Linked DNA regions of Homo sapiens: all the other regions are linked to region 2. Evidence: fine-mapped expression QTL. A gene starts in region 2. Each other region holds a variant in brackets. All regions are shown on one strand. Distances are between the middles of the regions.

Region 1 (8,177 bases), 65 kb after region 2:
CTGCAGTAAGCTGTGATTGTGCCACTGCACTCCAGCCCAGGCAACAGAGCAGAGCGAGACCATGTCTCAGAAAAAAAAATGTAAGCTGGGTCTTGTCACTCCTCTGCTCAAACCATTCAAGGGTGCTCCATTTCACAGTAGAAGCCGAAGCTCCCATGTGATGTGACCCTTCCCCACCCCACATTTCTCATCTCCTGTTCCTGGTCTACATTCTCTGTGCCCCAGCCTCCTTGCTCTTCAGTGAATACACTGGGCAGGCGTCTGCCTCTGGGCCTTTGCACTTGCTGTTCCCTCTGAGTGAAATGCTTTTCGCTTCATTATTTCCTTAGGCGTTTTCTCAAAAGCCACCCTCTTCCTGATCCCCTGATCCAACGCCACCTTTCTCATTGACTTCATCACATCTATTTCCCTCTCTTCTTTATATTTTTCTTATCAGCCCTTGTCCCTGTTTAATTAATTTATTTCATTTGTTGACTGTCTCCTTCAATAGAGTGTAAGATCCACAGTAAGAGATTTTTGTCGCTTTGGTCACTGTTAACTACCCCAGCCAGTAGAACAGTGCCTGACACATAGTGGGCCCTCAGTAAATAGTGCCTGAACGAAAGAATATTGCTTCGGGTTCCATAGCTCTGCAGCCATCACAGATGGGAGAGTGGCTCTCAGTATCTGAGCTCAGACCCCTCAGCCTGGTCCTCCAGAGGCAAAATTGTGTCTCTTGGGAATATTTTTCTTGAGTATTTTTGAAATGCAAATGTTATTTATATAATATACTCATGGAGTTTAAAAATCTTAGTTTTTAATTTTATTATTATTATATTTTGCGACAGAGTCTCGCTCTGTCGCCCAGGCTGGACTGCAGTGGCGCTGTCTCGGCTCACTGCAATTTCTTCCTCCCAGGTTAAAACAGTTCTCCTGTCTCAGCCTTCCAAGTAGCTGGGATTACCAGTGTGTGCCACCAGGCCTGGCTAACTTTTTTGTTTGTTTGTTTTTTTGAGATGGAGTCTCGCTCTGTTGCTCAGGCTGGAGTGCAGTGGTGCGATCTCGACTCACTGTAACCTCCGCCTCCCGGGTTCAAGCAATTCTTCTGCCTCAGCCTCCTCAGTAGCTGGGACTACAGGCGTGTGCCACCGCGCCTGGCTACTTTTTGTATATTTAGTAGAGATGGGGTTTCACCATATTGGGCAGGCTGGCTTCAAACTCATGACCTCATGATCTCCCCGCCTCGGCCTCCCAAAGTGCTGGGATTACGGGCGTGAGCCACCGTGCCCAGCCTCCTATAGTTCAAAATTCTTTCCTGCAGTCCTTCAGTGCTCCTCCTTGGAAAAAACCAGTATTGTTTCTTGTGTGTCTCTTCCAAGATACACCAAAAGGGATGCATTTTTGTAATTTTGAGAGCCAGATTGCCTTCCTTGGAAGGAATACCCTTCTAGCAATGTGCGAGAGTGCCTGTTTCCCTACATCTTTACCAGCACAATGTTGTCAGACTTTTAACTTTTGCCTGTTTCATTGGTGCAAGCTTGTGTTCTCAGTGTAGTTTTATTTCCCACTTCTTTACTTACGCATTTGATCCTTGAACAGCATGAGGGTCAGGGGTGCTGATTCCCTGCTCAGTAAAAAAATCCACATGTAACTTTTGACTCCCCCAAAACTTTACTAATAGCCTGCTGTTGACTGAAAGCCTTGCCAATAACAGAAACAGTTGATTGGCTGGGTGCGGTGGCTCACGCCTGTAATCCCAGCACTTTGAGAGGCTGAGGCAGACAGATTCCCTGAGGTCAGGAGTTCGAGACCAGCCTGGCCAATGTGGTAAAACCCTGCCTCTACTAAAAATACACAAAAAAATTAGCCAGGCGTGGTGGCAGGCGCATGTAATCCCAGCTACTTGGGAGGCTGAGGCAGGGGAACCGCCTCAACCCGGGAGGCCGAGGTTGCTGTGAGCCGAGACCACACCATTGCACTCCAGCCTGGGCAACAAGAACGAAATTCTATCTCAAAGAAAACAACAAAAAAAGAGAAACAGTTGATTAACACGTATTTTGTATGTTACATGTATTATATACTGTATTTTTACAATAAAATAAGCTAGAGAAAAAATCATAAGGAGGAAAAAAATTTTACTATTTATTCAGTGGAAGTGGGTCATCATAAAGGTCTTCATCCTCATCATTTTCATGTTGAGTAGCTGAGGAGGAGGAGGAAGAGGAAGGATTGGTTTTGCTATCTCTTGGGTGGCAAAGGCAGGAGAAAATCCATGTAAAAGTGGACCCTTGTAGTTCAAACCTCTCTTGTTTAAAGGTCAACTGTATGATGTTTAGCATCTTTTTTTTTGTTTGTTTTTGAGACAGAGTCTCACTCTGTCACCCAGGCGGGGGTGCAGTGGTGTGATCTTGGCTCACTGCGACCTCTGTCTCCTGGGTTCAAGCGATTCTCATGCCTCAGCCTCCCAAGGAGCTGGGTTTACAGGCATGTGCCACCACACCTGGCTAATTTTTGTATTTTTAGTAGAGATGGGGTTTTGCTATGTTGGCCAGGCTGGTCTCGAACTTCTGACCTCAAGTGATCCGCCTGCCTCAGCCCCCCAAAGTGCTGGGATTACAGGTGTGAACTACTGCACCCGGCCAGTGTTTAGCATCTTATATATTTAAGGGCGGTTGTATTTCCTTTCCTATGGATTGCCTGTTCATGTTCTTTGCCTGTTTCTTATTACATTATTGATTGTTTTTGTAGTCTTGAAATATTTTAATTATATTTCTTGGAGTCTTTTGCCTTGCTTCTGCCCTTTTGAGTAGGGAGATGAGTTAGAGTGAACTAATATGGTTTTAAACTGGGGGCTACAGACTTTATTACCTTAGCTAATAATTAGCAAGTCTAGGTCAAAGCAGAAGTTGGCCTATTGGACCTGGTAACATCCTGAGGTCTCTGTTTTGGGGCCATGTTATTCAGCCACGCACACTTACTTCTTTTCTTTTTTTCTTTCTTTTTTTTTTTTTGAGACGGAGTCTCGCTCTATCGCCGAGGCTGGAGTGCAGTGGCGTGATCTTGGTTCACTGCAACCTCTGCCTCCCAAGTTCAAGCAATTCTCCTGCCTCAGCCTCCAAAGAAGCTGGGATTACAGGCACCTGCCACCACACCCGGCTAATTTTCGTATTTTTAGTAGAGACAGGGTTTCACCGTATTGGTCAGGCTGGTCTCAAACTCCTGACCTCAGGTGATCCACCCACCTCGGCCTGCCAAAGTGCTGGGATTACAGGCGTAAGCCACTGCACCTGGCCTCTTTTCTTTTTTTGAGACAGTCTTTCTCTGTTGCTCAGGCTGGAATGTAGTGGCATGATTACAGCTCACTGCAGCCTCAAAATAGGCTCAAGCAATCCTCCTGCCTCAGCCTCCTGAGTAGCTAGGACTTTAGGCATACACTACCATACTTAGCTAATTCTTAAATTTTTTTTATAGAGATAGGTCTTGCTGTGCTGTCCAGGCTGGTTTCAAACTCCTGGACTCAAGCAGTTCTCCCACCTTGGCCTCTTAAAGTGCTGGGATTACAGGTGTGAGCCACCGTGCCTGGCCCCCACCTCGGCCTCTTAAGGTGCTGGGATTATAGATGTGAGCCTCTGCACCTGTCCAGCACATACTTCTAAAGGCTTTTTTGTTGCCTTTCTTGAAGGTGAATTTTCTTACCAGGGTGGAAAGAGCCAGCTTGATAATACTGGTGTATCTCATTATACACATATTTAACCTACACAGATTTGGTAATACCATTCAGGAAAATGGTGGGGGGAAAGAGAAAGAGAGAAATAACCATTTAAATAGCGTAGGTGGTTCTTTTTCCCGTGCATTTCATGAAGAAAGCTGATAGTGTAACCTGTGGGGTGTGACTGCGCGGTTTCCAGTTCCCTTGTGCCTGCCCACAGTGTGATCCTGGTGTTTTAAGGTATATTTTTAAATGCATCGAGGCCCTTAAACGTAGGACAGCTATTTTATTTGATATTTTACTAGAGAAACACTGAAAAACTGATCTCTGAAAA[G/A]CATAGTATAATAAAACAAGAAACAAGCTGTTTGGAACTTATTGAGAGAGCAGATGCCAGACTCTATTGTGGTCCCTTCTTAAGAGCTTTTTCAGTGTATAATTTTGTCTTTATATGATTTTTGCCTGATTTGTTGACTTTAAAAGCTAAATCTCACATAAAGTCGTGACTCTGTGTATAAAGATATATTTCATGAAAGAGACTTTCTAGATAAACTTGCTCATATCTTTATTTTAGCCTGTCTTTTAAGAACAAGAAATATTCAAAATATCACCCTGCTGATTAACTGTAGGTTACAAATGTGTCAGTGGAGAGACCTGGCCAACTCCACATTAAGCAGATGTTCAAACTTAGTATCCCCAATGGCAGGACAACCTAATGTATGTGGTAAGAGGTACACGACATAACTTATGTAGTATTCTTCTTTCTTTTGAGTCAGGGTCTCACTCTGTCACCTAGGCTAGAGTGCAGTGGCACAATTACAGCTCACTACAGCCTCGACCTCCTGGGCTCCAGGGATCCTCCTATCTCAGCCTCTCGAGTAACTGGAACTACAGGTGTGAGCCACTACACCTGGCTAATATTTTATTTTTTGTAGATTTGGGGTCTTGCTGTGGTGCCCAGGCTTGTCTCGAACTCCTGGGCTCAGGTGGCCCTTCTGCCTCGGCCTCCTAAAGTGTTGCAATTACAGGGTGAGCCACTGTGCCTGGCCTTTAAACCGAATCTAATCATGAGGAAACAATTGTAATCACCCAGTGGGTTCTTCTTGCCCACTGCACAGATAAAATAAATTCACTGCTGGGCGCGGTGGCTCATGCCTGTAATCCGAGCACTTTGGGAGGCCTAGGTGGGATCATGAGGTCAGGAGTTCAAGACCAGCCTCGCCAAGATGGTGAAATCCTGTCTCTACTAAAAATACAAAAAAATTAGCTGGGTGTGATGGCAGGCGCCTGTAATCCCAGATACTTGGGAGGCTGAGGCAGAGAATTGCTTGAACCTGGGAGGCAGAGGTTGCAGTGAGTCAAGATTGCACCACTGCACTCCAGCCTGGGTGACAGAGCAAGACTCCATCTAAAAAAATAATAATAATAAATAAATAAATTCACTGGGACTGTAGCATTGCATTAGAGAAAGAGTTTAATTGACACAAAACAGGCCATATGGGAGACAGAGTTATCACTCAGATCAGTCTTCCTGGAGGCTCAGAGATTAGGGTTTTTATAGACAATTTGACAGGTAGGGGACTAGGGAATGGGTGCTGCTTATTGGTTGGGGATGAGATTATAGAGGTGTGGAAAATGGTCCTGTGCTGAGTCCACTTCTGGGTGGGGCCACAGGATAATTTGTTTCACGAGTCAAGTCACGGGCCCAGGCAAAGTCAGTAGATTGCCAGAAAGAAAAAATCTCAAAAGACCAACCTTAGGTTCTGCAATAGCGATGTTATCTATGGGAGCAATTGGGGAAGTCACAAATCTTGTGACCTCTGGCTTCATGACTCCTGAGCAGTAAGGGATTATAGAAACTATACCTACCTCTTATTAGAATTCAAGCCCCTCCCATAATCCTAACCTTGTGGCTGTTGATTAGTTTTACAAAGGTGGTTTCGTTTTGGGAAGGGCTGTTATTATCCTTGCTTTTTTTTTTTTTTTTTTTTTTTTTGAGACAGGGTCTTGCTCTGTTACCCAGGCTGGAGTGCGTTGGACAATCTCAGCTTACTGCACTTTCTGCCTCCTGGGTTCAAGCGATTCTCGTGTCTTAGCCTCCTGAATAGCTGGAACTACAGGCGTGCGCCACCACGCCCGGCTAAGTTTTGTACTTGTAGTAGAGACGGGGTTTCACCAAGTTGGCCAGGCTGGTTTCAAACTCCTGGTCTCAAGTGATCTACCTCCCTTAGCCTCCCAAAGTGCTGGGATTACAGGCATAAGCCACCATGCCCAGCTATCCTTGCTTTAAGATTAAACTATAGGCTGGGTGTGGTGGCTCATGCCTGTAATCCCAGTACTTTAGGAGGCTGAGGCGGGTGGATGACTTTGAGCTCAGGCTTAAAGTTTGAGACCAGCCTGGGCAACATGGAAACCCTGTCTCTACAAAAAATACAAATATGAGCCAGGCATGGTGGCTCACACCTGTAGTCCCAGCTACTTGAGAGGCTGAGGTGGGAAGATCGCTTGAGCCCCAGAGGTGGAGGCTGCAGCGAGATGAGATTGCACCACTGCACTCCAGCCTGGGCAGCAGAGGGAGACCCGGTCTCAAAAAAAAAAAGAAACTATAAACTAAATTTCTCCCAAAATTAGCTTGGCCCATGCCCAGGAATGACCAAGGACAGCCTAGAAATCAGAAGTAAGATGGAATCAACTATGTCCGATTTCTCTGTCATAATTTTGCAAAGGCAGTTTCACAATTAGAAAAATGTAGAATTTGCTGCATTCTTTAAAACAGCTGGTGGAAGTCTTTAAAAATCATTGTTGCCTTGGCAAAGCTGCTGGGATTATAAAAGAAAAAAACCAAAAAGTTAAACAAACAAAAATCATTGCCATGGAAAAGAAGGGAGGATGTTCTAGATTTTAAAAGATTAAGGAGATAGTAGCCACAGGCAATTTGTATATATTGATTAGGTACTGAATTGGGGGAAAAATGGCTTTAAAAATATGTCTGGGGACTGGGCAGTAGCTCATGTTTGTAATCCCAGCATTTTGGAAAGCTCTGGCGGGTAGATCGCTTGAGTCCAGGTGGATTCCTTGAGCCCAGGAGTTCGAGATCAGCCTGGCCAATGGGGTGAAATCCCGTCTCTACAAAAAAAATTAAAAAGTTAGCCAGGCGTGGTGTTGCGCACTGGTAGTCCCAGCTACTCAGGAAGCTGAGGTGGGAGGATCGCTTCAGCCAGGTAGGTCGAGGCTGCAGTGAGCCGTGATCGTGCCACTGCACTCCAGCCGGTCTACAACTTACTTTTTAATGGTTTTACCTAGGAAAAAAAATGCGGATACACACACACACACACACACACACACACACACACATACACAGAGACATAGATGGCATTTATCTATAACCTTTGGTGTCCAATAGAATAGTCACTGTAGCCACATAGAACTGTTTACACTTAAATTACAATTATATAACATTTAAAAATCATATCCTTATTTGCACTAGCCATATTTCAAGTGTCAATAGCCACATGTGTCTCATGGCAATGTATTGGGCAGCACAGATGTGGAACATTTTCGTCATCATGGAAGTTCTCTTGGGTAGTGATGCTATAGACACATAGAACAGAAAGCAAATGTGGCAAAATGATAACAATTGGTGAAGAGTATACAGTATTTATTGTTCTATTTCAATTTTTCTATAGATTGGAAACTTAAAAATAGGAGGTTTTTTTTTTTTTTTTTTTTTTTTTTGTGAGAGTCTCTCTCCATCACCCAGGCTGGAGTGTGGTCTCAGCTCACTGTAGCCTCCGCCTCCTGGGTTCAAACAGTTCTCATGCCTCAGCCTCCTGAGTAGCTGGGACTACTGTTGTGCCCCACCACGCCCAGCTAGTTTTTGTATTTTTGGTAGAGACAGGGTTTAGCCATGTTGCCCAGGCTGGTCTCAAACTCCTGGCCTCAAGTGATCTGCCTGCCTCGGCCTCCCAAAGAGCTGGGATTACAGGCGTGAGCCACCATGCCCTGCTTCAAAATAAGAGTACTAAATGCCAGTATGATCCTAGATTGGGGCCTGGACCAGAACAAATTTTTTTTTCTTTCTTTTTTTTTTTGCGATGATGGGCATCGATAGGACAATTGGCAAAATACGAATAAAGTCTGTAAATTAAATATTAGTATTATAAAAAGTTAAATGTCCTGATTTTGATAATTGTGCTATTGGTTATGTTAAAAAATGTGTTTGTTGGGAAATACACCCAGAAATATTTAGGAGTAAAGGGGCACAATGTCTAGAGCTTACTCTCAGAGTTTCAGGAAAAAGTGTGTATGTGTATGAGCGCAGATACTTCTCAACTTACAGTGGGGTTACGTCCTGAAAAACCCATCATAAGTTGAACATATCGCAAGTTGAAAATGCATCTGATACTCCTAATCTGCCGAGCATCATAGCTTAGCCTAGCCTACCTTAAATGTGCTCAGGACACTTCGATATCCCGCAGCTAGGCAAGATCAT
Region 2 (8,177 bases):
GTGAGCCACAGCGCCCAGCCAACAGTTTTTATTTTATTGACTTCTCATCAATGTTAACAAGCATTTTCTAAGTAGTAAGACAGTCAAGGCACTTCTCAGAAAATGAGCAAATCAGGATATCCATCTCTTGCTCTTTCAAGGAGCTCAGACTCTAATAGCTATAAGCAGGCCTGTGACTTTACAATTTTTCATGTAAGGCAACACACAAGCAGGAATAATATATTTGCAACAAATATAACCATCAAAGTGCAGTACCTGGAATAGGTAGATCCCCAAAACAACTCAAAAGAAAAATGATCAAAAGAAGGTTGTGGGTGGGTCGCGGTGGCTCACACCTGTAATCTCAGCACTTTGGGAGGCTGAGGCGGGCAGATCACCTCATGTCAGGAGTTAGAGACCAGCCTGGTTAACATGGTGAAACCCCGTCTCTACTAAAAATACAAAAAAAAATTAACCAGGTGTAGTGGCAGGTGCCTGTAATCCCAGCTAATCGGGAGGCTGAGGCAGGAGAATTGCTTGAATCCAGGAGGCGGAGGTTGCAATGAGCCGAGATCGCACCATTGCACTCCAGCCTGCGCAACAGAGCAAGCCTCTGTCTCAAACAAACAAACAAAAAGATGCTTGTGAATAGGCAATTTAAAAGTTTTCTGGGCCCTGGAGGGTTCATTTTCCCTTCCTGCCACTTAACTAGCTGAGCAACATGACCTGGGAGGAGTTAGACTATTAGAGTTTACCCTGAGAGAGGCCACAAGATGCACACACGGATAACCTCTTCAGGGTACAATGGCATTAGTGTGTTAGGAGAGGTAAGGGACAAAGTTCAACAGAAGGCTGGGTGTGGTGGCTCATGCCTGTAATCGTAGCACTTTGGGAGACCGAGGCGGGTGGATTACTTGAGGTCAGGAGCTAGAGACCAGCCTGGCCAACATGGTGAAACCCCGTCTCTACTAAAAATACACAATTAGCTGGGCGTGGTGGTGGGCGCCTGTAATCCCAGCTACTTGGGAGGCTGCAGCACAAGAATCGTTTGAACCTGGGAAGTGGAGATTGCAATGAGCCAAGATCACGCCACTGCACTACAGCCTGGGCAACAGAGTGAGTGAGACTCCATCTCAAAAAGTTCAACAGAGGAAAACTTCAGGACCTCAGGGCTGGCCCATTCGGAAAGGCCCTCAGAGGAGCTTGCCATTTGAGCTGAATCTTGGTCTTGAACTCCTGGCCTCAAGCAGTCCTCCCGCCTCAGCCTCCCAAAAGTGCTGGGATTACAGGAATGAGCCACCACTCCCAGCCAAAATTTTTTTTTTTTTTAATTAGCTGGGTTTCAAGTTCTTCTGCTCTGACCAAAAAAAATTAGCTGGGTGTGGTGGCACACACCTGTAGTCCCAGCTACTCGGGGGCAAAGATGGGACAATCACTTGAGCCCAGGAGGTCAAGGCTGAAGTGAGCCCTGATCATGCCACTGCACTCCAGCCTGGGCAACAAAGCAAGACCCTGTCTCAAAAAGAAAAAAAGAAGTATGATAAAGATAAGCCTTTGTATCAGTTTCATGCATTCTCCTTCTGCCTTCTCTTCTCACTTGAGTGCTCCAGGGAACATGAGTGCAAATCAGATGCATCTATTAGTTGCAAACAAAAAACCTGGATGCTTTAGTTAACCTCAAGATTTGGTTAGCTGGGTACAGCTAAAACTAATTATACAAGATCCAAGTCTTCCCTTTTCACCTCATTACCACCGCCCTTTTTTGTGTTTAAGCTACACGTAAATACAGAACATTCTGTAAGATTGAAAAGTCAGGAAATAGTTCCTGCCCTAGTATTGGAGGAGAGGGTGCCAGTGCCTCGACGCTGAAGAATGAAATACAAGGGAAACAGCAACCACCGTGTATGCGGCAAGCCTCTCAGCTGTCAGAATCTATTCCCTGCTGTCTCTGCCAGTAACTCATGCTGGGCTACCAATCCCCAGCTTAGTCCCTTTCTCAGAGATCCTGATAATTTCAGTTTGTCAACTGCAAGGGCAGTCTGTTCCTCCACTCACTTTGACCAAGATGGGCTTCTTTGTGTACAGGCGCATTTTTAGAGGCAGGACCAGGTCCACAGGGAAGGAAATTACAAAACACAGGATTCTGCCCCAGATGAGGCAACAGCTTTCTAAATCTTAGTACTGTCCAATCTCAGAGTGAGATTATTTGGGAAACAGCTCTCAATCCCTGCAGTTGTCTCAGCTGGTTATTTATGCCTTGGGTGGAGCTGGGGTGACCTCTGAGTTCCCCTAGGGTCGATGGCCGAGTGGGAAGGCTCTATCACTGAAGTGGACCCAATACTAGAAACGGATCCAGTACGATCTGATCAGGTTTGCCTAATCCAAGGGCCTCAATGGAAAATGCCTCCCAAGGCCAGGCACGGTGGCTCACGTCAGTAATCTCAGCACTTGGGGAGGCTGAGGTGGGTGGATCACCTGAGGTCAGGAGTTCAAGACCGCGCTGGCCAACTTGGCGAAACCCGTCTGTACTAAAAATATAAAAATTAGCCGCGCATGATGGCGCACTCCTGTAATCCCAGCTACTCGGGAGGCTGAGATGGGAGAATCGCTTGAACCCGGGAGGCGGAAGTTTCGCTGAGCTGAGATAGCGCCATTGCACTACAGCCTGGGCGACAAGAGCAAAACTCCGTCTCAAACAAAACAAAACAAAACAAAACAAAACAAAACCTGTGCCTGGCAGCCTGGAGCCGGTTCTGGTCTCCGTCAAACCAAAGGCATCAGTTTCCTCCACTCCTGTCCACCAATCGCCAGATATTCTCATTTTCTTCAGAAGCTCGGAATCCACATTTTTAAGTGAAATCACCCATTTTAATGTTAGCAACTTATTTCAAAGTGTTTTAGATACTATAGACCAAAAGAGGTATGGGCTGTGACCGTAAGCCTGATTTGGCCTCTGACGGCCAGTTTCTGACCACAGTTTTGGAGGGAATTTCTGCTTCCAAGGTCAAGTTTCTCCTAAATGCCCACTAGAGTTCGTGGGGTGGAGTGAGGAAGGATCCGCGACACCGGATACAAACAGAAGCTCTCCTTCTCCCGGAGTCCGATCAAGGCTCATCCCAGGTCCCTAATCTCTTCCCTTTGTGGGTTTTGAGTCAAGGAACAAAATTCAGGGCCAAGCCCCTACAACCTCCTCCACAGGCACCAGTGCTCGAGAGACGACCGCCAAGCACCCCGCCCTTTGCAGCACTCACCGACCATGGCTCTGGTGCAGTCCGGGGCGCTGATTGGCTGGGCTCGTGGTTGCCGGGGCGACCCTGGCCGGAACTAGGCTCTCGGTGAGCTGGGCGGCTCCGGCTGCAACCTTGTGGGAGTCGCGTGTGTAGTGCACGGTGCATTCTCTCTTATATATCCTGTCCGGCCCGTTTGAGGTGGACAGCCTACAAGGGCGGGACCCAACGCCTGAATCCTGGGGTGCTGGGCGGAGGATGCTGAGGCTGCAGCTCCAGGAAGGGAGGGAGCCTGGGGGATGAAGGAGGGGCCTCTCCACTCTCACCCGCCGGAGCAACTGGTGGAAGTCAAGAAAAGTCTCTCGGGGCTGGGGGAGGGGATTGTAGGGGTGTGTGTGACAGAGGCCTCAAAAATCTGGCTGGGGGTGCTAAGGCAAGCCCATCTGCGCACTGTGCCCTGAGGTGCAAGAGGATGCAGGGTGGAAGTCGTCCCAAGAGAGTCCAGGGATCAAGTGGGCATGCCCTTTTAGCCTTGGCACGAAATGGAGCAGAAAAAGAGCCGGATGCGGATTACTGTGGTGCCCTAGGCTCAGATTCTGCTGAGTCACTGTGACTGCGGATTTGGAAGGCTGAGAGTCCTGGGGAGACATGCTCCGTGGAGACGAATTTGTTTCTTCCTTTGCAAGATTCAGATTCTGCACTTGGGGGCCCATACAACACACTTCCCTGGGTGCATGCCACTGCACCACCCCTGCTCCTCAAGGCAGGTAATGGGGGAACTAATTGGTTTTGTTTCCCATGAGCTAAGGCAAGGCTGGTGTGGAGATAGCAGTTATAGGGAAGCATATTAAAGAATAGCCAAAACGGGACCAGGCGCGGTGGCTCACGCCTGTAATCCCAGCAATATGGGAGGCCGAGGTGGGTGGATCACCTGAGGTCAGGAGTTCGAGACCAGCCTGGCCAACCTGGTGAAGCCCCGTCTGTACTGAAAAATTAGCTGGGCGTGATGGCGGGCGCCTGTAAGTCCCAGCTACTCGGGAGGCTGAGGCAGGAGAATCGCTTGAACCCGGAAGGCGGAGGTTGCAGTGGGTCGAGATCGTGCCACTGCACTCCCGCCTGGGTGACGAAGTGAGACTCCGTCTCAAAAAAAACTCTATAAAGTAAAAGTTACTGTAAAGAAGGAGATATACTCTCAGTAGGTGAAGGAAAAAGAACTAGAGCTTTAAAGTGGTAATTAACCATCAGAAGAATCACAGATGGGGGAGGTGAGGATGACACAGGGCCCTTCCGTTGTCCCTCCAGTGCAAAAGTTAAGGAGGCACCAGAAAACTGGTTTCCAACTCCCGACCTCAGGTGATCCTACCGCCTCGGCCTCCCGAAGTGCTGGGATTACAGGCATGAGCCACCGCGCCCGGCCCCATCGTGACATTTTTGCATTCATTTTGATGCAACAAGAGAGGACTATATTATTTACACGTATTTACAAATTACTTTGGGAGGCTGAGGCAGGAGGATCACTTGAGCCCAAGAGTTTGAGAAAAGCCTGAGCAACAAAGTGAGACCCCATCTGACAAAATAGTATAAAAGGACGTTTTAAAAAAGGGCTAGGTAGGCAGCCCTGTCCAATAGAACTTTCCCTATCTGTGCTGCCCAAGTAAGGTAGCCACAAGCTTCAAGTAGCTATTGAGCACTGGAAATGTGGCCAGCAGCCAGGCGTGGTGGCAGGCGCCTGTGTCCCAGCTACTCAGGATCTGAGGCAAAAAGATCGCTTGAGCCCAGGAATTCAAGGCCGCAGTGGTGGACTCAATAAAAGAAAAAAAATGGAAATTAAAAAAAAAAAAGTGGCCAGTGGACTGAGGAAGTGAAGTTTTAATTGTAATTAAATTAATTTTTTAAAAATTTATTTTTTGAGGCGGGGTTTCACTGTGTCGCCCAGGCTGGAGTGCAGTGGCAGGATCTTGGCTCACTGCAATCTCCATCTCCTGGGTTTAAGCAATTCTTGTGCCTCAGCTTCCTGAGTAGCTAGGACTACGGGCATGCACCACCACAGTCAGCCACTTTTTGTATTATTCGTAGAGATGAGTTTCACCATGTTAGCCAGGCTGGTCTCAAACTCCTGACCTCAGGTGATCTGCCCACCTCGGCCTCCCAAAGTGCTAGGATTACAGGCATGTGCCACTGCGCCTGGCTTTAATTAAATTTAGATAGCCACATGTCACTAGTGTTTGGAAAGACCTGAGCTGGTTCAGATCGAGGCCGCAGTGTGCTGGCTATTCTATCTCTCACTCTTCTAGTGAGATTGTTTTCTCAATCACCAGTCTCCCTGACCCATCCAGAGGTGGGGCTCAAAGCCACAAAGCTCAAGTGTCGTGTTCGGTCGTTGGTTTCCAGCATGGCCAGTTCCCATCCTCAGTCATCTTGTTAACATGAACTATATAGGGGCCCATCCCAAGTCATCTCATTAGCATAAACCATCAGGAGTGGTCTGAGAAGCCCACAATGAATAAGATGGACACTCCTATCATTTGGGATTTAGGGGCTCAGGGGCATGATGATAGTTCACTGCAGCCTCGACCTTCTGGAGTCAAGCAATCCTCCTGCCCCAGCCTCCTGAGTAGCTGAGATGACAGGTGCATGCCACCGTGCCTGGCTAATTTTTTTTTATTTTTTTGGTAGAGATAGGGTCTCACTATGTTGCCCAAGCTGGTCTCAAACTCCTGGGCTCATGTGATCCTCCCGCTTTGATCTCCCAAAGTGCTGGAGTTACAGGTATGTGCCACCACTCCTGGCCAAATTTGTTACTACACAGTGGTAAAGACAGACATTTGAGGTGGCAGTGAACCAAGATCATGCCACTGCACTCCAGCCTGGGCAACAGAGGGAGATCCTGTCTCAAAAGAAAAAAAGAAACTTACTGGCCGGGCACAGTGGCTCAGGCCTGTAATCCCAGCACTTTGGGAGACTGAAGCGGGTGGATCACTTGAGCTCAGGAATTGGAGACCAGCCTGGCCAATGTGGTGAAACCCCGTCTCCACTAAAAATACAAAAACATGAGCTGGGTGTGGTGGTGGGCGCCTCCAGTCCCAGCTACTCGGGAGGCTGAGGCACGAGAATCGCTTGAATTCAGGAGGCAGAGGTTGCAGTGAGCTGAGATTGTGCCACTGCACTCCAGCCTGGGCAACAAGAGCGAGACTCCATCTCAAGAAAAAAAGAAAAAGAAAAAGCTGCTGTGGAGCATGGGCGAGCACTGCTGCCTGGACAAAGACCGAGGGTCCTCGGGAGGGCAGTACTGATGTACAGGTTTCCAGCAGGTCGGCGTGTGTGTTCTCTCCTGCAGGTCTGCAGCCAGGCGTGCCAGGAGAGGGGGAGTCTGAGGGATTGATGTAGGTTGGGAAAGCATGATGAGAGGAGACAGAGTGGGGGCTGTGAAGAAGAGAGCGACTTGATGGTGGCGGTAGTTACACAGATGTATGTATTTATTAAAATCCGCTGAAAAGTACATTTTAAATACAAGCATTTTATTGTATGCATGTTATTCCTCAACAAAGTCCATTTTTAAAAAGTAGAGTGGTTGGAGTGATGACGAACATTATGAAAGGGCTTATTGGCAGAGAAAAAGTAGAGGGGTCCAGAGACTCAAGTTCCTAACGAGGCTGAAGTAAGAGTGGGGGATTAAATAAGGGCAAAAACTGAGAGAATAAAAAAAGTGGGTTGTTTGGGGCCAGGTGCGGTGGCTTATACCTGTAATCCCAGCACTTTGGGAGGCCAAGGCAGGGGGATCGCTTGAGCCCAGGAGTTCAAGACCAGCCTGGGCAACATAGTGAGACCCCCCCGCAACCCCCCCCACCTCTGCCATCTCTAAAAAAATTAAAAATTAGCTAGGTGTGGTGGTGTGCACCTGTGGATCCAGCTACTAAGGAGGCTGAGATGGGTGGATCATCTGAGCCTGGGAAGTCGACGCTATAGTGAGCTGTGACTGTACCACTGCACTCCAACCTAGGCAGCACAGTGACACCCTATCTAAAAACAAAAAGAAAAAACAAAAACCCAAGTGGGTTGATTGGGAAACACAGGAGATAGAAGTTAAAATCATGGGGAAACATCAGTCAAATCACAGTGTGGGACATTCTACAGGACAACCAACCTGGTTTATCCCATAATTCAGTGCTATAAGAAAAATGAAGGAGTGTATATTGATCAGGATTTTCCAGAGAAACAGAACCAATTGAATTTCTATAAATATATAAAAAGCAATATATTGCTGGGTGCAGGGCTCACACCTTGTGATGGTTAATAATGAGTGTCAACTTGATTGGATTGAAGGATGCAAAGTATTGATCCTGGGTGTGTCTGTGAGGGCGTTACCAAAGGAGGTGAACATTTGAGTCAGTGGGACTGGGAAGGGCGGACCCATCCTCAATCTGGGTGGGCACCAACTAATCAGCTGCCAGTGCGGCCAGAATATAAAGCAGGCAGAAAAACGTGAAAAGACTAGACTAGGCCTGGTGCCGTGGCTCACGCCTGTAATCCCAGCACTTTGGGAGGCCGAGACGGGTGGATCACTTGAAGTCAGGAGTTCAAGACCAGCCTGGCCAATATGGCAAAACTCATCTCTGCTAAAAATACAAAAAAATTTAGCTGGGTGTTGTGGTGCATGCCTATAATGCCAGCTACTCAGGAGGCTGAGGCAGGAGAATAGCTTGAACCCAGGAAGCAGAGGTTGCGGTGAGCCGAGATCACACCGCTGTACTCCAACCTGGGTGACAGAGACTCACCTCACCAAAAAAAAAAAAAAAAATAAGTGGGGCTAGACTGGCCTAGCCTCCCAGTCTACATCTTTCTTCTGTGCTGGATGTTTCCTGCCCTCCAACATCAGACTCCAAGTTCTTCAGCTTTGGGACTCGGACTGGCTTCCTTGCTCCTCAGCTTACAGATGGCCTATTGTGGGGCCTTGTGATTGTGTGAGTTAAT
Region 3 (8,177 bases), 950 kb after region 2:
CCTTCCAACCAATGGTGGAAGCCAGAACACAGCGGAAAAATACCTTCACAGTGTGGATGGAAGACAACTGTCACCCCAGAATAGTGTTCCTGGCAAAACGAACTTTCAAGAAGAGGACAAAATAAAACATGTTTACAGACAAACAAACAAAAACTGAGAGTTTACAACTACAGATCTATTCTAAAAGAACTTCTAAAAGATGTTTTTTACTTCAGAAAGAAAGAAAATAAGCTTTGGAGGATTTGAGATGCAAGAAAAAAATGACAAGAAATGTGTATTAACATATGGGTAAATCTAAATAAGTACTGTATGTATAAAATAAAGAAATTAAGAAGAAAAATGTCATTTGTGGGTACTGTAAAAAAAAAGAGAAAATAATATAGCTTGTAAGTTTGAGAAGGAGTGGGTGACAAGTAAAAAAATATATATTAAGGGCCTTGAATTACTCAGGAGGTGGGGTTGTGTTAAGTATGCATATGGTAAGATTTCAAGGTAACCTATAAAAGAAAAGAGACAGAATATAACTTACAATCCAGCAGACGGGGAATAAGAGAAAAGAAAAAACAAAGTCAAGGGTAGAGACAAGAATTCAGGACAAATAGAAAGAAGAAAGCCAGAAGTCCAAATATGTCAGTAAATACAAAGGGGCTAAAAATGGCAATTAAAAGATAGAGGTTGTCAGATTGGATAAAAAAAGAAAATCTAGGCATTATGCTGCTTACAAGAGACTCATTTAAGATATAAAGATATGTGAATTTAAAAGCAGAGATAGAAAATAATAATATAAATACTGAACAGAATAAAGGCCTTGGGGGCCTTCAGGCCAGTCTCAACAGCTATAGTAGTCTCAACAGCTATAGTAGTCCCGCATGTGGCTTGCCTGATGCTGGCATAAGGCTGCTGCACCCCACCCTGACTGATCCTCCTAACGCCCCCTCACCTGGCTGGTGATGTCTGAAGGCATAGGCGAGGGGGGCTTGGAGTAGGTGGCGTCCTGGGAGACGAAGCCAGAGTCATGGGAGGAAACGCTGGAGAGGCGAGCGGTGGTGGTGGCTGGCTGCGCCAGGCTGCGGTAGCGACAGGTGGAACTGGGTGAGTATGTTTGGGCACCCCCAGGCCATGGGGCTCCGCCACCCTTGGCACTGCTACTGCTGCTGGGGGCACTAGGGGAGTGAAGGAAGAGGGCACAGCAGCCAGACAGGGAGACAGAGGGGTGTGTGTTTGGGGGAGGTTGACAAACGAGGGTGGGGAAAGAGGTGAGGGGCAAAGGAAGGAAAAGACAATGTCAGACTAGGAGGTCCTGAGACCCAGGTGCTACACAGGAGCTGTGTTCTGGGACGGTGTGGAAGGGGAGGGCCAGAGCAGGGTACCCCCAGCCCCAGTGCTGAGGGGAGCCGTGGTCAGGGAATGCCCAGGGTGAGGCAACCTCTCTGCCTCCTATTCTGCCACTAAGAACAGTTGTCCAGGCTGGGCACAGTGGCTCATGTCTGTAATCCCAGAACTTTGGGAGACCAAGGCGGGTGGATCATTTGAGGACAGGAGTTCAAGACCAGCCTGGAGAACATAGCGAAACCCCATCACCACTAAAAATGCAAAAGTTAGCTGGGCATGGTGGCGCATGCCTGTAATCTCAGCTACTTGGCAGGCTGAGGCACGAGAATCACTTGAACCTGGGAGGCGGAGGTTGCAGTGAGCCAAGATTATGCCACTGCACTCCAGCCTAGGAGAGCAAGGCTCTGTCTTGAAAAAAAAAAAAAGAAACAAGAAACAGTTGTCCTGTCTGGGCGTGGTGGCTCACACCTGTCCCAGCACTTTGGGAGTCTGAGGTGGGTGGATTGCTTGAGTCCAGGAATTTGAGACCAGCCTGGGCAATAGGGTGAGACCCTGTCTCTACAAAATATATGAAAATTAGCCAGGCGTGGTGGTGCACACCTGTATTCCCAGCTACTTGGGAAGCTGAGGCAGGAGAATCGCTTGAACCCGGGAGGTCGAGGCCACAGTGAGCCATGATTGTGCCACTGCACTCCAGCCTGGGTGACAGAGCGAGACCCTGTCTCACAATGACAACAAAACCCAAAAAACCCACCAAAAAACCTATTGGTTTCACCAAAGATCTTAATCTAGATTCCTATATCCTAAAGAATATATCTTTATCACTGAGGCCTCAGCCTCCCGAGTAGCTGGGACTACAGGCACACACCACCATGCCCGGCTAATTTTTTTGTATTTTTTAGTAAAGACGGGGTTTCACCGTTTTTACCAGGATGGTCTCAATCTCCTGACCTCGTGATCCGCCTGCCTCGGCCTCCCGAACTGCTGGGATTACAGGCGTGAACGACTGCCCCCGGTGAGTCCAATCATTCCTAAACCACCTTCTCAAAATCTGGTATTTGCCATCCAGTCCTAACTGGATGTCTAGCATATGGTGATGGTGTGTGTGCGTACAGAGGTCACCTTCCAAGTGGGTCCTGCACCCACCATCACCCTCACTCTCTCCAATCCCTCAAGGGTGTCCAGCCCTCTATGGCTCACACCCTCAGCACAGCAATTCAACCCTTGGGTGGTGTTCCTGGCTAAGCGTGACCCTGAAGCCTCCCAGCCTCTGCCCCTGCTCATGGCTGTCCCCTGCAATCAGCCCCTTCACTGTGGGACGGCCACCCACGCAGGGTCTGAAGAGCCTCTCTCTGAGGTAGTAGCTGATTGCTGTGCCTGGCTTCTCCCAAGCTCTGGATGTCCAGCCAGTGATTCTGGGGAGAGGGGTGCCTGGCAAAGGGGGGCCCCCACCAGCACTTCACTCTGTGCTTACTGTCCTCCCCACCCAAGGAAGCTTGAACCATCAATGTCTCCTCCAAACCCAGCCCCAGTGCCCAGCCAAGGAAAGGCCCCTGATCCTGAGCCTGGCTAGTGACTGCGAGATCCTTGGCCTCTCCCCAGCTGTGTGAGGCTCCCGGGGCTAGCCTGGGCCAAGGCTCCAAATGCGGCAGCTGCCTCCATGGGAACCAGCTCTTAGGAGCCAGCCAGGCTGGAGTGTCCTATACCTTATGGCCCCAACACTTGTTTCTAGAAGCCTTCCCATCTCTCCCTGATCTTTGACTCTTACTATGACCCCACACGGTGCTAGGCCTGGCAGAGTCCAGTGGTTAAATGCTGGGACTTCATGTGTCAGTTTCCCCTTCTGTAAAATGGAGATGACACCATTCCTGATACAGCAGTGTTAGGATTCAATGAGAAAAAATGCATAAAGCACTTAGCACAGCACCTGGCACATAGTGGATGCTCCATAAATGAAGCTGCTACTGCCCCTGCTTCCTATTCTGCCAACAAATGCCTGTGCCAGTAGCAGTCTTGGGATGACAGGGCACATTTTCCCTCTACATATGCAAATTCCTCGGATGGTGTAAAAGTTGTGAATTTTGAGGCCCTGAAGCAATTTCTGATGCAATTTTGCTGGGAACATCCCCACTTCCTCTTGGGATACCGCCCCCCACACCCCTGGGAACCCCACCCCCACTGACCTGCACATGCTGGACTTCCGGGAGCTGGAGCTGCTGGGTGATGAGGGTGGGGTCTGGTAGGACCAGCTGTAGTCCGAGCCCTTTAGGTCTTTGATTACCTGGACAGGGACATGGATGGGGGTCACTGGAGGCAGCTCCTCAGAGCTAGTAGGGCCAGAGGCCCCCCCCCACTCTCTAATTGTGAACCACATCCCAGGAGAAGACCCAGAAATCTGAAGCCCCCTCCCCCAGGCTCCTCCTAATGTGGGGAGCAGGGAGACACCAGAGGACACAGCCTTCTCGGAGCCCCTTCAGCTAACATGCACTGAGTAGAGATTCCGAGCCCAGCCTGGGCTGGGCGAGAGTGACCCTGACACCATGGGGTGCAGGTTGCTCCTGCGCCTCCCTGAGTTTGTTTACTCCTGTTCCTGTCTTAGAGTGGAAGATTCCCTGAGATAACGTGGCAGATGCTGGGCATGCAACAAGTGCCTCTGGAGCGTGCTGCCCGCAGGCTGTGGGACAGGACTGGTCTGAGTGCAGTGGCAGCAGGGCTGGGGTGGGGTGGCCAGGTACGCCTGGGTCTAGGGGAGGGGATGGGGTTTCTGGCCATGAAGGGAGGTGGGGCGTCTCCAGGTTCGGCAGGAGGTCTGCCCACATGGAGCAGGGCAGGCAGACTCTGGGCCTGACTCCATGGATCCAGGACTTCACCCATCTACTCTGAGTCTGAGAACGCTGCTGGCCAGGGCATACCCTCCCCGA[C/T]CTGGGCAGGTGCTCCGGGATGGCCTGCAGTGGGTGTCAGAAGGGGTCTGGTCTTATGCCCCTAGCTGCCTCCCCCAAATGCCATCCTCTTTTCCCCTTTACTGTTCCCAACCTAGGGCAGCCCATCTCCTCCCTGCCCCTGGCCCTGGCCCTTGGCCAGAGGGCTCCCGCACCTGCTCGCTGGCGGGAGGCAGTTTGTGGGGTTCTGCTGTCAGCACCACCAAGTCGTCGATGATGCCCTGCAGGTGGGTGATCTCTCCCAGCATGGTCAGCTCTCCATTCTGAGGAAGCAGCGAGTCAGACCTGCTGGCCCTATCGCCCACCTGCCCGCCTGCCCAGCGCCCCTGGAGAAGCAGCAGCCCTTGTCGGGCCTCTCCTCTCTCACCCCTCCTCGCTAACCAATGCTGCTCGGGGCTGGTGCAGGTGGGGCCCACACAGCCCAGAGGGCTGGCATGATGGTCTCTCCAGACCAAATCAGTGCATGGTGAGCTATGAGACCTGCCTTTGGGCCAGGAGCATGTGGCCTTGATGCCCCCAGCCAGGGACTGCTGAGAAGTGACCCTTCTTGGAGGTCAGAAGGTCAACCCTGGGCCCAGCCCACCCCTCTGGGGTCTGAGTCCCCAGGAGTCCCACCACCACAGGCTGCAGGAAGGTGATGAAGGTGCAGAAGCGGCCCCGCTCCTCGATCAGCGCCCGGCGCACGGCCTGCTTCTCCGTCTCCTCCAGCAGCAGGTACATGTCGTTGACGTCCTGCAGGGCACTGTCCAGCTGGGGCTGCAGGTCTCCTTTCCCTGGAGGGGTGGGGAGGAGAGGCCTTGCTGGGGATGCCAGCCTGGCTTGCCACACCCACAAATGGGCTCAGACCCTGGTGGTGGCATCTCTCGGCCGTTGGGCTGGGTGTTGCCCTGGGGCCAGGGGACTGCGGAGGGCAGTGAGGACTCTGGGGCTTGTGGAAGGGCTAGTCCCACCAAAGCAGGCAGAGAGGACAGACACACACACAAGAAAGAGGCCAAAGCTGCAAAGCCACGCTGGATTGGGGCATCTCCGGGGGAGGCTCTTGGCGCCCAGGAGCTCTGCCAACACGGAGACTCGCTGGCCTCCACCTGGGGTACCCTCACTGACCCGGGATGGCGCCCCTCACCTCACAAGGTCCAGGGAGGTGGGGCAGAAGCGGGACAAGAGAGAGTGTGGGGCTCAGCTGTAGGCCAGGCCACAGGGGGCGGGGGCCAGGAGAGCTAGGGCTGGGCCTTGGAGGCAGGGAAGGGGTCTCAGTGTGGGTCCCCACTCAGCTCAGGGAGCAGAGCACACAGCAACAGCGACACAAGAAGCAGCAAGAAAGAGAGAGGCGAGAGGATGATGCAGAGGAGATGATGAGATGGCAGGTGAGGAGGTGACAAGTAAGGACGCAGGCCAGCCTGGTGGGGGCGGGGCAGCCAGGGCCTGTGGCCCCCATCCCGCCCTGGCCAACCCCTCCTGGCCTGGCAGACTGACCCAGCAGTGGCCCGGGACTCATCCCTGGCCAGGGACCCCGGGGGCCCCAGGGGGACTGTGCCCCAGGCCCCTCCCTCGTGGACCGACCGCCTTCCTCGCTTCTCCTTGGCCTGGAGAGGTTCCTTCCAATGGCCCTGAGCTGGGGGAGACAGACAAATGCGACAAGGACGGGAGGAGCAGCTGGAGGGACCGACATTTGACTTACCAAGTAGCTCTACAGGAAGGATGTGGGAGGAGAGGAGGAGAGACAGAGAAAGAAAGAATGTGTGAAAGACGCCGGATGGACAGAGCCACTCCTGGGGCGGGGGTGCCTGGGCCTCCTGCTGCCTCCCATAGGGAGGTTCTGGACCAGGTTTGGGGGGAAGGGCAGCTCCCTCTGTCCCACCCAACAGGTTGGAGGGTCCTGTGTCGGGGACAGCGCCCCTCTGGCTGGGATGAAGGCTTTGGGGCGCCCCACGGGGCGGTGGGGCTGTGGAGCGGGGCCGTGGGGCTGTGGCTGGGGGGCCGCGCCAGGCACTACCTTTGCGCGCCTTCTTCTGCAGCTTCAGCGTGTCCGACGACTTCTTTTTGATCTCATGCCGGGCTCGTTTGTACTCTGCAGAAGGGGAGAGCGGAGCGCTCTAATGGGGTCCCTGCGGAGTGGGGGGTGGGAAGCCCGGCTCCGCGCCACCCTCACCTTTCGCGTGGTCCTTGTCCAGCTGGTTGGCCGCCTTCTTCCAGTCCTCGATGCGCTCCTGCAGCGGGTTGATGAGGCTCTCCAGCAGTGCGCTGCGGAGGGCGGGCGGGAGCGCAGGTCAGGGCCGGGCTCCCCCGCGACGCCCCGTCCCCCCGCCCCCCTGCCCGCCCGCAGCGCCCACTCACTTGGTGAACTGCCGCAGCTTGGTCTCGATGCTGCGGTGGCGCATGCACATGCGTGTGAGCGCCGAGCCGATGTCCCTCGTGGCCCCTGGCGAGGCAAGCGCGGGGTGGGAAGGGGCCCGCTGGGGCCTGCGCAGTCCCGGCCTCGGGCCAGGAGGGGGCGCCCCGGCCGCGCAGGCGGAGCCCGCAGCCCGCGCCCTGCCCCCGCCGAGCCGCAGTCCCGCCGGCCCTGGGGGATTCGGGGCCTCCTCCATCTCCACCAGCTCTTCCTCCGCCATCCCAGCCGCGCCAGCCTCCTGCGGCGGCCTCCCCTCTCTCCCAGCTGGGAGAGGCCGGCGCCAAAGACCGTTCCAGGAGCCGGCCAAACGACCCTCCAGGTGTGCCCAGATGCAGGTGCGGGAGTGTGAGCACGCCCAGGGCCCGAAGGAGCGGGAGCCCCAGGTCTCTGCCACTCGGACCAGAGGGCAGAGGCGGCGCCAAGCCCAACGGCGCGCTCACCTGACCCTGCGTGCTCTTAGAAGGACACGAGGGCATGAGTGGGAAGAAGCCCTAAGGAGAATCTCTGTGCTGGGGGGTCACATGAACAGCCCACAGCAAAAAGGGAATCCCCGGGGAACACTCCTGTCACTACTTACCCACTCCTGCTTGCATGCCTCTTGTGACGAGGGGCTCACTCTCTCCACAACCAGCCCACTCCACTAAGGAGCAGAACTCAAGGTTCTGGGCTTGGCGTCCCGTCCTTTCCCTGGCCCATCCCCTACTCTTCCTTTCCAGCCTCCAGGCCCACCCTGGGGCAACCCCAACCTCCAGCCACGCGCCTCCCCACCTCGGGTGTTGGTAGCCATGTCAGCCACTTTCTGGAAGGCATCCAGGAAGGCCACAGCAGCCAGCACGGTGGTCCTGGGGAGAGGGACAACGGCATGGATGGTCGGTGGTTGGGCGGGGGGGGGGCCTCTGCCTGCCCCTCCCCTGCTGGGGTGCCCTGGGCCACCTCACCTCAGCTGGGAATGCAGCTTCGTGGCCTTGGAGTTGAAGTCCTCCCAGATAGGGTAGGAGCTCTGCCGGGCAAATGGGAGAGAAAGTGAGCTTCTTGTGGGGTGGTTGCAGGGCTTGACCTGGGCCGGGCTCCCTGCATGCTCCATCCAGACTTGGGGCAGTTTCTAAGACAGCAGCCCTGCCCCATGGAGAGGGAGGCTCTGGGTCCTCTCGGAGGGCAGAGGACCAAGGACAGAGCCATCAGCATGAGGAAAGCCTGTCCCTGGGAACGGGCGCCTTTGCCAAGCCCTCCCTCCCTGACATCAGGACATCCACCCTACAGGCTACAGGGGGCTCACATCCTCCCTCAGGGGAAATGGAGCAGGAAGTGGCAGGTCCTGTCCCCTCGGGGTTTCCCAGGGGCCTGGCAGGGGATCTGGGCTGAGCCCAATGAGAGGCATCGTGTCTCCCGGACATGTGCCTAGGACACTGGCACTGACCTGCCCACCAGGGGCAGAGGCACAGTGTGGAGGGTAGGGGGTGGCAGGGCTGAAGGCACACCAGGTGTAGACTGGGGCCTCCGGGGCCCCTGCCCTGTGT

What was found. PIP is the estimated chance that this variant, and not a neighbour inherited with it, causes the effect.
Region 1: its variant is fine-mapped to the expression of NQO1 in lymphoblastoid cells (GTEx, PIP above 0.99).
Region 3: its variant is fine-mapped to the expression of NQO1 in fibroblasts (GTEx, PIP 0.99).

What each region holds. Positions count from the first base shown.
Region 1 is chr16:69,788,256-69,796,432 of GRCh38, forward strand. All of the region lies in intron 2 of WWP2 (WW domain containing E3 ubiquitin protein ligase 2), which reads left to right. Among named protein-coding and RNA genes, the nearest start is that of WWP2, 30 kb to the left of the region's middle. The variant G/A (reference allele first, on the strand shown) is at 4,023.
Region 2 is chr16:69,723,203-69,731,379 of GRCh38, forward strand. It overlaps NQO1 (NAD(P)H quinone dehydrogenase 1), which reads right to left and starts at 3,358. Exons shown (of 6, transcript NM_000903.3): 1 at 3,231-3,358. The coding sequence starts at 3,237. It overlaps NQO1-DT (NQO1 divergent transcript), which reads left to right and starts at 3,525. Exons shown (of 2, transcript NR_186363.1): 1 at 3,525-3,973. RefSeq lists enhancers at 2,841-3,833, 2,920-4,119, 3,366-3,625, 3,834-4,827.
Region 3 is chr16:70,673,366-70,681,542 of GRCh38, forward strand. MTSS2 (MTSS I-BAR domain containing 2) reads right to left here. Exons shown (of 15, transcript NM_138383.3): 2 at 7,599-7,660; 3 at 7,429-7,502; 4 at 6,606-6,690; 5 at 6,421-6,512; 6 at 6,265-6,339; 7 at 5,950-5,958; 8 at 4,887-5,044; 9 at 4,427-4,534; 10 at 3,516-3,613; 11 at 941-1,163. Among named protein-coding and RNA genes, the nearest start is that of MTSS2, 8.6 kb to the right of the region's middle. The variant C/T (reference allele first, on the strand shown) is at 4,254.